Linked DNA regions of Homo sapiens: region 2 is linked to region 1. A link means that fine-mapping ties the variant in region 1 to the expression of a gene that starts in the linked region. Tissue or cell type: whole blood. Region 1 holds a variant in brackets; the other region holds the start of a gene. All regions are shown on one strand. Distances are from middle to middle.

What was found. PIP is the estimated chance that this variant, and not a neighbour inherited with it, causes the effect.
Region 2: SBF1 starts here. The variant in region 1 is fine-mapped to the expression of SBF1 in whole blood (TOPMed, PIP above 0.99).

What each region holds. Positions count from the first base shown.
Region 1 is chr22:50,299,190-50,304,903 of GRCh38, forward strand. All of the region lies in intron 1 of PLXNB2 (plexin B2), which reads right to left. Among named protein-coding and RNA genes, the nearest start is that of PLXNB2, 5.6 kb to the right of the region's middle. RefSeq lists enhancers at 1,251-1,807, 1,808-2,364 and a silencer at 2,502-2,551. The variant T/G (reference allele first, on the strand shown) is at 2,371.
Region 2 is chr22:50,472,349-50,477,691 of GRCh38, forward strand. It overlaps SBF1 (SET binding factor 1), which reads right to left and starts at 2,687. Exons shown (of 41, transcript NM_002972.4): 1 at 2,438-2,687. The coding sequence starts at 2,492. RefSeq lists enhancers at 208-1,119, 1,120-2,029, 2,940-3,849 and silencers at 2,049-2,178, 2,599-3,058, 2,639-2,843.

The DNA of each region.
Region 1 (5,714 bases):
GGGGGTGGCATGAGCACCTAGGACATGGGCGGTGGAGAAGGCAGAGGTCCTAGGGCTGTGCGGCCCTCCAGGGCTCAAAGGATTGGGGTGGACACAGGCCCTGCGTGGGGTGGGGGGGGGGCCCGGTGCGGGGGCGGGGGAAGCAGCCTCGGACCAAGTGAGCGATAGGCTGCCCCAAGCACAGGCCAAGGCGCGTCTGAGAGTGGCTGTCCCGGAACGGGGCGACAGGCGTCACAGAAAAGCCACGGAGGCCCCGGAGGCCCCGCAGCCAGCAGCCAGGGGGCCGGGCCAAAGCTAGCGACACACGCAAATCTGCAATTATCCCAGAGCGCTAAACACATCAGAGGAAACAAAACAGACGCGCCGGCGAATCCCAGCCTCCGCTGTTTTCAAAACAAGCGCGAGGGGGGTGCCGCGGGGCGTGGGGCTGGGGGGTCGGCAAGGACCCCGGCCGCCCCTTCCCGCAGCGCCGCGCCCGTGGGTAGGCGCGGGGAGGGACTGGGTGGAGAGCGCGCGGGAGACCCGGCGAGGGCGAGACCGGCGGCCCCGCCACCCAGCCCCACCCACCGGTGACCCGGGTCAGAGTTCAGCCCGGGAGGCGGGGGGCGGTGTCTCCTGGGTGGGTCTGCGAGCCCGGTACCCGGCCAGAGCCAAAGGCGGGCACCCGGCCTGTGTGGAGCGCCCTGGACTATTCCTCGCAGGCCGACCCAGGTGGCACAGCCCCTCCCCCGGCGCCGGCACCGCCAGACTCCCCGGAGGGCGCAGAACGGTTGCCCGGGAGCCAGGGGCAAAGCGCGCCCGGGGCCAGGAAGCGCAGGGACTAGGCCCGCGCCTCCTCGGCGCCGCCCACTGCCCCCCGCGAGCCCAAGCTCCACGGCCACCGCCCGCGCCCTCCCGGGGACTCCGGCGCCCCGTCCGCCCCTCGGCCTCGCGCACCTGGAGGGAGCACGTGGCCGCCTCTGGGACAAACCTCACCAGGCCGGGGGCCCAGGACGCGCGGGCGGGTGGGAGTCTGACCCGAGTAACAATGACGGCGGCGGCGACAGTCACACGAGCGCAGGAGACGTCGTCCCCGCGGGGCGCTCACCTGGCGTCGGGCACATCGGATCGCACAGCCGGCCATTACCTAAGTCCTCCGAGCCGTGGAAGGGGCGCGGGGAGCAGCTCCGCCCCGCCGATGGTGGCTCCGCCCGTGCCCCCGGTCGGTCTCAGGGCTCGGCCCCTCCCGGCCCAGCTGCCAATCATGCACGACCCTGCCCGGAGCAGCCTCCCGCAGGACTCCGGACCCAGGGTCAAGGCCAGACTCACCCGAGGCAAAGGCCGAACGCTCCCGGCACAACCCGACCTAGGAGCTGGGGCGGGGCGGGGCGGGGCGGGGCTCCAGGGACAGACTGATGTGGAGGCCTGAGCCTCGCTTCAGCGTCTACAGCGGTCCCCGCTGGACTCTCGGCTGAGGACCCCTCCCAGGTGGAGGCCGTCGCACCCCTTCCCCGCCAGCCTGGTTTCAGGGTGGGGTTCCTACTTAGGGCCAGCCTCCCCTGCAGTCTGGGCTCTGGGTCCCAGCAGGAAAAGTCACCCTGGCTGGTGGCAGTGATGGGGTCACCAGCCCAGGATCCTGGGGGTGCCCCATGAAGCCCCAGCTCCTCCTGTCACTTGCTCCAGCCGAGTTAGTCACAGCCCCCACTGGTCCACACCTCCTGACACACCCAGGCCACCTGGTACCCAGGGCCTCTGTATCTAGCCCTGGCCCTCAGGCACCCCCTGAGCTCACCTGGCCATGCCCAAGGGGCCTGCCCCAGCCCCCTCTCCGCCTCTGCACCAAGTGCAGCCCCTGTATATGGTGCGTCCCTAGACTGGGGCCCCAGGCTGCCCTCCCATCCTACACACAGTTGTGAGGCCCTCCTCAGCCTCCTCTCTGGCCACGGCCCACTGGCGCATCTGGAGGATGGTCCTCCCCAGCCCTCAGACAGAAGGTGGGATCCAGTTGGCTACGGCGCCCTGTCCCCACACGCACCAGGCCTGCAGAACCACCTCTCTCCTCAACCACCCCTTTCGGGGTCCCAGACCCCATCCTGTCCAACCTGGGCACAGCTGCAGCCCCCTCTTGCTACACCGTGGTCCTTCGGGTCAGAAAGCTGGGCAGCGCAATGAACCTACCGATGTCTCCGTGCTTCCTGAGGACCTCCTGTGGGAGGGGTGGGCACCGCCAGGCGCTCGGGGCACACGAGGCCGATGGCTACAGCAGGAACCACCAACTCATCAGGACAGGACATGCGGTCAGACAGCAGGCGGCCACGGAGGGACTCTCGTGGGATTCTGGGGCTCAGTCACTTGGAGTCTCTCCTGAAAGGAGGCCTCCCGGCCCGCCGG[T/G]GCCCAGCCCCACCTGCAGGCTCTCCTCTGAGTGGCCCCCACGCATCTCCCCCTTTCCAGCTCAACCCCGCAGCAGCCGGCTGCTCAGAGACCAGGTCCTGCCTGGATGCAGCTGGCTCAAGACCAGCCCCCGCCCACAGCCCCCTTCTCACCCCCGGGGTGGGCGTTGGGGGGTGGACGGGTGAGGCCCCAGCCAGTGAGCAGTAAGCAAGGCCTGTAATCTCCCCGTCAGCCTGTCAGCGCCTCAGCGGTCACCCCAGCCCCGCCTCGCCCATCACCGCTGAACCCCACAATTAGCTTGGGGCACCGCGCCAAGCCTGTGTGCCAGACACCACTTGCACACATGACCACACATGTGCAGACACACATGGCTGGGTGCTGCCGGAAAAGCCCTGCCAACAGGGTCTCACCCCAACACCCAGAACTCGTCCCCAGTACAAAGAGCCTGGGAGAGAAGCCTCAGGCCGGGGCACTTGGGCTAAGAGGGGCAGTGGGGCTCTCAGAACCCAGCGCTGCCTGGAGCCCCGAGGGAGGGGCCATGTGTGGCATGGGGAAGTGGGGTGGGGGCAGGGCCGTCTCAGCAGGGGAGAGGGGCTGCGTCTGCCCAGGATGAGCTGGGGGCTGGTGAGGCACAGGGTGTTGGGCAGGACCTGGGTCCAGGCCAAGGGTGAGGCAGCCCAGGGTGTGGGCTGGGCCCCACAGGGGCAAACACTCAGGGCTTTGGGAGGCCAGAGGGACAGGGATTTCCCAGTGAGGAAATGCCCATCTCAGAGTGGGGGCAGGACAGTGAGTGGGAGGTGATGCCCGTGGCTGGAGCTGTGTGGGGAGGTGGGTGCCCCTGGAGGCCAGGTCCAGCCCCTTGCTCCACGCGGAGGCTTGCTCTGCTCATGGTGGAGCTGAGGACTTCAAACCCCACAGGGCCTGGTCGAGAGCCACTGGGCCCCAGGTCTAGATGTGGAACTGGGGGACCCTCCAGCGAGCTTTGCTGGGCCTGGGCGGCCTGCCTGGGGCGCCCCACCTTCACGCCCTCCTCCCTAACATCCTTTTCTCCTGAAGTCCCTCAGGGTGGTCACCAGATCAGGCTCGGTGCCAACATAGGAGTGGGGAGGCCAAGCCCCTCAGCTCCCCTGGCCAATCTCTGAGGCTGAGAGGGAGTGGGGGGGGCCATGCTGGAGCACCTCCCTCCCACCACCTGCCCCTTGCCCCTGTCAACTGCTGGCTCCACTTAAAATAGCTTCTCCCCCTCGCTGGTGGGAGGGAGGCCCTGGTGTCAAGCCGGTAAGGCTGGAGCAAGGCTGGGCACAGGGCCTGGGCTCAGCAGTGTTCTGTGCCCTCCATCTCCTCCAAAGCAGGCCCCAGCTCTGAAAACACACCTGACAGGGCTGGGATCCACAGAGTCCTCACCTCCTGCTGGTCCTCAAACCCCACTCTCCATGGCTGGGTCCCTGAAATACTTGGATTACCCTCAAGCCCCCCGCCATCCCCCCAAGCTGTGGCTCCCATGCCACCCTACCACGTCTGAGTCACACAGGCCCAGGCCTCCCTTGCTTCCCCCAGGAGAGACCCCCCCACACTCCTGCTTCTGGCCTGTCCTCAGAGCCCCAGAACTCACCTAGGTTCAAAGCCAGACCCCAGCTGAGGACAGAGCATGGACCCCAGGCAAATGCAGTGACAATCACAGAGCACGCTCCTACCACAGCCACCCACGCAGCCTGAGGCATAGCCCCCTGGAAACTGCCTCGGCCTTCAGCACCCCACTTTGGACCAGCAGGGCAGGGGGGTTCCTCCTCTGAGAAGTCCTCAAAGCTGCCTGGAAGGAGCAGACAGTGCCCCCAGACGCCAATCTGACAGGGGGCCCAATCTGTCTCTGAGCAGGTGGCATGCTGGCTCGGGGGCCCCAGACCACAACAGAAGGTCACCTGGGAAGAGAGCCGCAGCCCTACACAAGGCTCGTGGGCAGGAACCGTCCCAGCCACAGGAGCAGACGCCCTTGCCTGGCCCCTCAGGGGGCCGTGTTCACACAGGAGGCCTTCTCAGAGGTGGACACCAAGCACTTCTCTCTCTTGCGCTTGCTGCGGGACTCAGCTGGGGCAGCATCAGGCCCAGAAATCGGTGCTGGACACTGTGTCTCCACACAGGGCCCCCCATGGAAGCTGCTGACCAGCTGTGCCAGAGGGGCCGGGGCCCTACCCCCAGGAGCCCAGTCCCTGCCTCTGATGCTGCTGCTGCTGGGACCCTGCTGGCAGAGCTGGTGGCTGAACTGGGGCAGCACCTCCCTCTCCTGCCCCAGGCCTGGGCCGGGACTCAGCTGGCACTGGAATGAGGAACTATTGGCTTTCAGAAGCCAGGAGACCTTAGGGGGCTGAGGAAGAGAGCTGGACCTGCCCCCAGGCGCCCTGATCCCAGCCCAGGGCAGTCTCCTCCCTCACCTAGCCTGGGACATGAGGCAGCTCAGGTGTGGCCTTAGGGGCTACCCCCAGGGAAGGCCACCAACCATAGCGGGCCACGGTGTGGGCTGGCCTCTGGGTGTGAAGGGCTCCAGGATCTGGGCTGCAGAGGCGGGACTGTGCGAAACAGAACCCCCAGCTCCACAGCCAGGCCAGCCCCAGGCTCCTCCCCAGACAGACATCCCCGGGGGTGGGGCAAACCTGCAGTACCACCAGGGGCAGCCTGTCCCACCATCCCCGGCACCACTGGGCCTGGGGCCAGTCACTGTCACAGGTTCATGAATCTCACAGGGCAGGGTGGATCCACTGGGGGGGTGCGGGGTGCCAGTGTTCAGGGCCAGACGGGAGGGGCCCAGCCAATCCCTTCACACGCTTGGTCTTCAGAGAGAAGGCTTCTGAGCCAGGAGGGCCACTGTGTCAGGGCCTGGCTTGAGGCCACACCTGTGGCTGGGGGAGCCCAGAACAGTGCAGGGTCCTTCCCTGGTAGGCAGAGAAAGGCAGGGGTCCTTACAATCCAGGGGTATGGGAAGAAGCAGGCCCTGTGTCAAGGGATGTGAAACCACGGAAAGGAAGAAGGTGGAGGAACCTCGACCAGAAAGAGGGAAGCTAGGGCAGCTGCCTCCCCGGGGCCCCAGAGCCTGAGCACCCCCCACCAGCCAAGGCTCTGACCCACCCTCCCCATCGTGTAATTAGTCAGAGACCCAGCCCCACCCCACCCACAGCCCCACCCCAAACACAAACAGCCACTACCCCTGAGGGAGGGAGGGGCTGTGGCCAGTCCCAGCCCTACTGAATCTCCCACCCCCAGAGAACCTGGATCTGCCTCAGAGAAGGGAGGTCAAGGCTGGGGGGCCACTTGCTGGCCACTGGGTGAATTCTGAGCAGCTCACCACCTCA
Region 2 (5,343 bases), 170 kb after region 1:
CAGATCCAGGCCAAGACAAGCTATCCGCCAATCCTAATCCCCAACCCAAGAGACCCTGCATCCCGCCCTGAAGTCCTAGCCTGACAGAACAGAGAGGATCCTCTACCCACTCAGAAGTGCCTGTTGTGTCTGTGCCTAGAGAGTTCACACACCTGCTGCTCAGTCACTAATGAAAGAAACTCATCATTTCCAGGGCCTCCTGTGTGCTACTGCTTCACACCTGTGCATTCGCTGCATCCTCACGGCAGCCTGGGAGGTTAGCATGACTCACTCCATCCCCAGATGAGGAAACTGAGGCACAGAGAGCCAAACAACTGGCTCGAAGTCACAAGGCTATCAAGGGGCAAAGCAGAGACAAGTGACCCCCACGCCACACTCCTCTGCTTCTTCCCCCAGCTCCCACCGGCCCTGGTACCTGGCTCTGCCCTCAGCCCATGACCAGGGTCCCAGTCTATAGCCTTGTTCCCCTCAAGAATGAACAAGTCCTTCTAAGGGGTGCCTGGGGCTGCAAGGCCAGCAAGCAGCTGACCAGCTCAACCCCAGAAGGTAGTGGGTACAGGGCTCCACGGTCCTCCAACCCTACTGCAGTGGACCACTTATCACTCCTTCCGGTCACTTAGGGGAAGGGGGGGCACCTTGGGCTCCAGCCTTCTACCCTGTCCTGCGCAAAGGACACACACAAACAGGTGCCTGCACTACGTGTGGCTCCAGCAGTGAGCACACACGTCACAGCCAGCTTGTTGTGGAGCCCACTCTGCCTCTTCTCTCTGCCTACCTTCAACTCCTCACCCCACGGCCACCACGCCTCCCACCTGGCCTTTGCCTGCAGTCTCTACCAACCCAAACCCTCTCCACACTGCCCTCAGGATCATCAGGGTCATTATCAGCTGTTCCTGTAGCCCCCGCCCCAGCCCTCAGCCCAAGGCCCCTCACGCCAAGACAGCCCTCAGCCAGCCTTGCTTCCCTGGATCCTCAGGCACCCTCTGCCCCAGGTGGTAAGGCCTCCTCCATGCCCCTCATAGGTGCCTCGGTGCAGACAGCTCCCTCTGTGGGTCAAGACAACATTGACAGCCAACCTGCACAGTGGGGATGAGGACTATGTGGTCCTAGCAAGCGAGAACTCCCTCTCTAAAGAAAAAGACAGATGCTCATGACTGACGGTGCCATAAGACACACACTTGGATAGACATGAGCAGAGAGGAGTGTGTGCTGAGTAAGAGGGCACTGAGGAGGGGCTGGAGACGAAGAAGATGCTAAAGAGGCTTCAGGAAGTGTAGGGGGGTGTCCAGCAGAAGAAACACAAAAAAGAGAGAACTCCAGGTCCTTGGTGGGGACAGTGACAACTGGACTGACAAAAAACAGGGTAACTGGGAAGGCAAGCTCAATCCCACCTCCAGGCTCAAGATCCAGCCCCTGCCTGACCACACAGCCATCCCCACACACTGCCAGTCTGCAGCTGGGATCTGACAGCCTGAGTGCCAGTCCCAGCCTCTCTGAGCCGGCTCAGGCCAGGCAGTCAGCTTATCCGCGCCTAACTTCTCTACAGATGGGGGCAACACCAGGGCAACCCCGGTGGGCTGCTGGGAGGAAGAGGTGAGATCATGTACACAAAGGGCTGTGCGGGGCCTGGCACACCAAGCACGCTCGCCAACGCTGCTGTCTCCAGGCTGTTGCTGATGTCATCGTCAGGCTCCGTTTTCTCCTACCTCCTGGGCTGAAGAGCTCTCAGACACGGGCGCTGACCCCACACACAGACCTCCTGGGCATGGGCACCGACCGCCACGCTGATACCCCACCCAGGGCTTGGCGTGCAGGGCCTGGACCGTCAGGCGAGTCGCCAGGAATGCTCTTCTCTCTACTCTCGACGCTTCCTCCTCAAATCCTCCCAGTTTCAAATCAAACACCGCTTCTCCATGCACCAAACCCGAACTCCACCCCCTCTTTGCACCCCGCCAAGACCGCCGGGGGCTTCAGACGGAGCACCAAGGTCAGAGGCGGGCTGGCGAGCCGCGGGTCCGCGCCCCTGGAGCCACTAGAGCCACAGCCGCCCGCAGCTGGCCAAGGAGAGAGCCCGTCCCACCCCAAGGAGGCCGGGCAGGCCGGGCCCAGCCTTCTCTCCCTGCCGCCACCAGGCCCGCGCGGCCACGCCGCCCCCAGCGGACGCCCATTCTCCCCACGGGCTGTCCGGTCGGCCCTGGCCTTCAGTCCCCGCCCGGCCCCCGGCCCCGGCCCTCAGTCCTCGGCTCCCCCGACCCCGGCCCTCAGCGCCCAGCCCCCGGTCCTCGGCCCTCAGCGCCCGGCCCTCAGTCCTCGGCCTCCCGACCCAGCCCCCAGCCCTCGGCCCCCAGCCCCCGGCCCTCGACCCTCAGACCCAGCCCCTGGCCCTCAGCACTCGACCCTCGGCCCCCGGCCCTCAGCGCTTGGCCTCGGCACTCACCGCGCGGGTGCGGCCCGAACGCCACCAGCACGAAGTAGTCCGCGAGCCGCGCCATGGCGAGGGACGCGGGGCGGCCCGAGGGGCGCGGGCGGGCTCCGCGGCTCGGGGACTCGAGGACGGCGCGCTCATGGCCCGGCCCCGGCCCTGGACCGCGCACCCCGGACACCCCTGGTTCGCTCCGCGGCGGCGGCGGCGGCGGCGGCGGCGGCCCAGGTTCCCGCCGCCATCTTCCCAGCCAGCCGGCCCGCCCGGGCGCGCCGTGCGCCTGCGCGCTGTCGTCAAGCCCTGAGCGGGCGGGGCCTGCAACCGCGCATCTCCATTGGTCCAGAGGGTGGGAGGGCGGCTCCCGAGAGCAGCGCCCCGCCCATCGCTGACCACTCTGGGGCCCGAGCACCGCCCCTCGGGCCGGGCACCTGGACTACGGCTCCGGCGGGTCTGACGCCCTGACCCGGGTCGGCTGTGGTGTCGGCGGGAGGCATGGGCCAGGACCACAGCTGCCCTCGCCGTTGGGACTCCCCGCACAGGAGCCCGAACCCCACCCCTGGGCCGTCCCAATCTGGGGATCGGGTCCCCAGACTCCTCGTCCCCCGCCCCTCTCTGTCCAGCGGGAGAAAGGCGGGAGAAGCCTAGGCGCTGCCTACCGGGCCCCCCAAACTAGAAGTCAGAGGAGGCGCAGGGCCATCACCTCAGGGGCTGCCAGCCTGGCGATGGGGAACAGAGAGAGAATTCAGGCCCTGCCCTTGGGGTCCCAGGCTGAAGAGCCCCCATCTAGGCCAAGTGAGACATTTAACACAGCTTAAAAACGGCACGCTCATGTCCCCCTGTAAAGAGCAAATGTTCTAAGCGTGTGAGGCACATGAGGCCACGGAGCAGGGGGCTCTGGGAAAGCTGCATCCCCCAGGATCCCTGACAGTGCCCACCCCTCTCAAGGGCAGGGCTGGCCAGGGCCACCCCTGAAGTGGCTCAGGGATGAGCATGAGCCCAGAGCAGAACATGCTGGGAGAGAAGGTGCAGGAGCCAGCCTGGTGCAGCAGGGAAACCCCTCTGAGCACAGCAGGCCAAGGTCTGTTTTTTGTTATGTTTTGTTTTGTTTTTGAGGCAGAGTCTCAATCCGTCACCCAGGCTGAAGTGCAGTGACACCATCTTGGCTCACTGGAACGTCCGTCTCCTGGGTTCAAGCAATTCTCCCGCCTCAGCTTCCCGCGTAGCTGGGATTACAGGTGTGCACCACCATGCCCGGCTAATTTTTGTATTTTAGTAGAGAGGGGGTTTCACCATGTTGGCCAGGCTGGTCTTGAACTCCTGACCTCAGGCCATCCACCCACCATGGCGTCCCAAAGTGCTGGGATTACAGGCATGAGCCACCGCCCCCAGCCCGAAGGTCTGTTTTTTGTTTTTTGTTTGTTTTTGTTTGTTTGTTTTGAGACAGAGTCTCGCTCTGTCGCCCAGGCTGGAGTACAGTGGCGTGATCTTGGCTCACTGCAAACTCCGCCTCCCAGGTTCACATCATTCTCCTGCCTCAGCCTCCCGAGTAGCTGGGACTACAAGCACCTGCCACCACGCCCAGCTAATTTTTTGTATTTTTAGTAGCGACAGGGTTTCACTGTGTTAGCCAGGATGGTCTCGATCTCCTGACCTCGTGATCCGCCCATCTCGGCCTCCCAAAGTGCTGGCATTACAGGTGTGAGCCACCGCGCCTGGCCCTGAAGGTCTGTTTTTAAATGAGTTTGGCTGCTGCAAGAACTGGCCAAATGACTGGCATCCAGTCTCCATCCATGGGCAGGAGCCAGCCCAAGAGAATGAATGGAATCAAACTGAGAGGCCCCACCAGGGTCCCCTCCCTGCCCTCAGGCACAGGCCACGCTACGCCTCTCCTCTCCCACTGTTGGTTTTCACAGGTTGAGAAATCATCTTTTTAAAATTTAATTTTTTTGTAGAGACAGGGTCTTGATAAGTTACCTAGGCTTGTCTTGAACTCCTGTCCTCAAATGATCCTCCTGCATCTGCCTCAAAAAGTGTTGGGATTACAGGTGTGAGAAACTGTGCCCTGCCAGAAATCCTCCTTTTTGCCCCAGCTGGCTCAAGTTGGTTTCTGTCACTTGTACCCAAAAAGGTCCTCAGCACCACACTACCACACCACTGAGCTTGTGTGCAGGCTGGCAGGGGCCCGGGGCAAGTCTGGGCTAGTGCTTGAGCCCAGGGCTGGCTCTCTTCGGAGAGACTCTAGGGACCCTGCACCGCACTCTCCACTCTCTCTGAGACTCTGGGGACCCTGCGTCGCACTCTCTCCACTGTCATGCTTCCACCAGGCCCTTGGGAACAACCATCCACAGTGGCTCAGTGTCTCAGATGGATGGATGCCCCTCCCTACCGCCCAGCCTGCTGATTTCTGGTCAGCTGTCTTGCAGTCTGCACTCTCCTCGAACCTCTCACCCCACTTCCAGTGTCTCTGAGATAATTGGCTGCTCCTCAGAGAGCAAATAGAAGCTATCAGATGGGAGCACCAAGCCCCCATCTTACACCTCTCACACCACCCCTCCCTCCATTACCACAGGGCTCTGCCCCCCTGCCCACTCCTCATCTCAGGCCATCATTCACTGTCAGTGCCCGCCGCCAAACTCCATCCTTCCCTGTCTATGGATTCCTTGCTATCAGAGTCAAACTTACCTCTGCCATCATAAAACACTCAAACAAAACCCCCCAAAGGCCGGGCGTGGTGGCTCATGCCTGTAAATCCCAGCACTCTGGGAGGCCCAGGCGGGTGGATCACTTGGCGTCAGGAGTTTGAGACCAACCTGCACAACATGGTGAAACCCCGTCTCTACTAAATATACAAAAAATTAGCCAGGCATGGTGACGCGTGCCTGTAATCCCAGCTACTCGGGAAGCTGAGGCAGGAGAGTTGC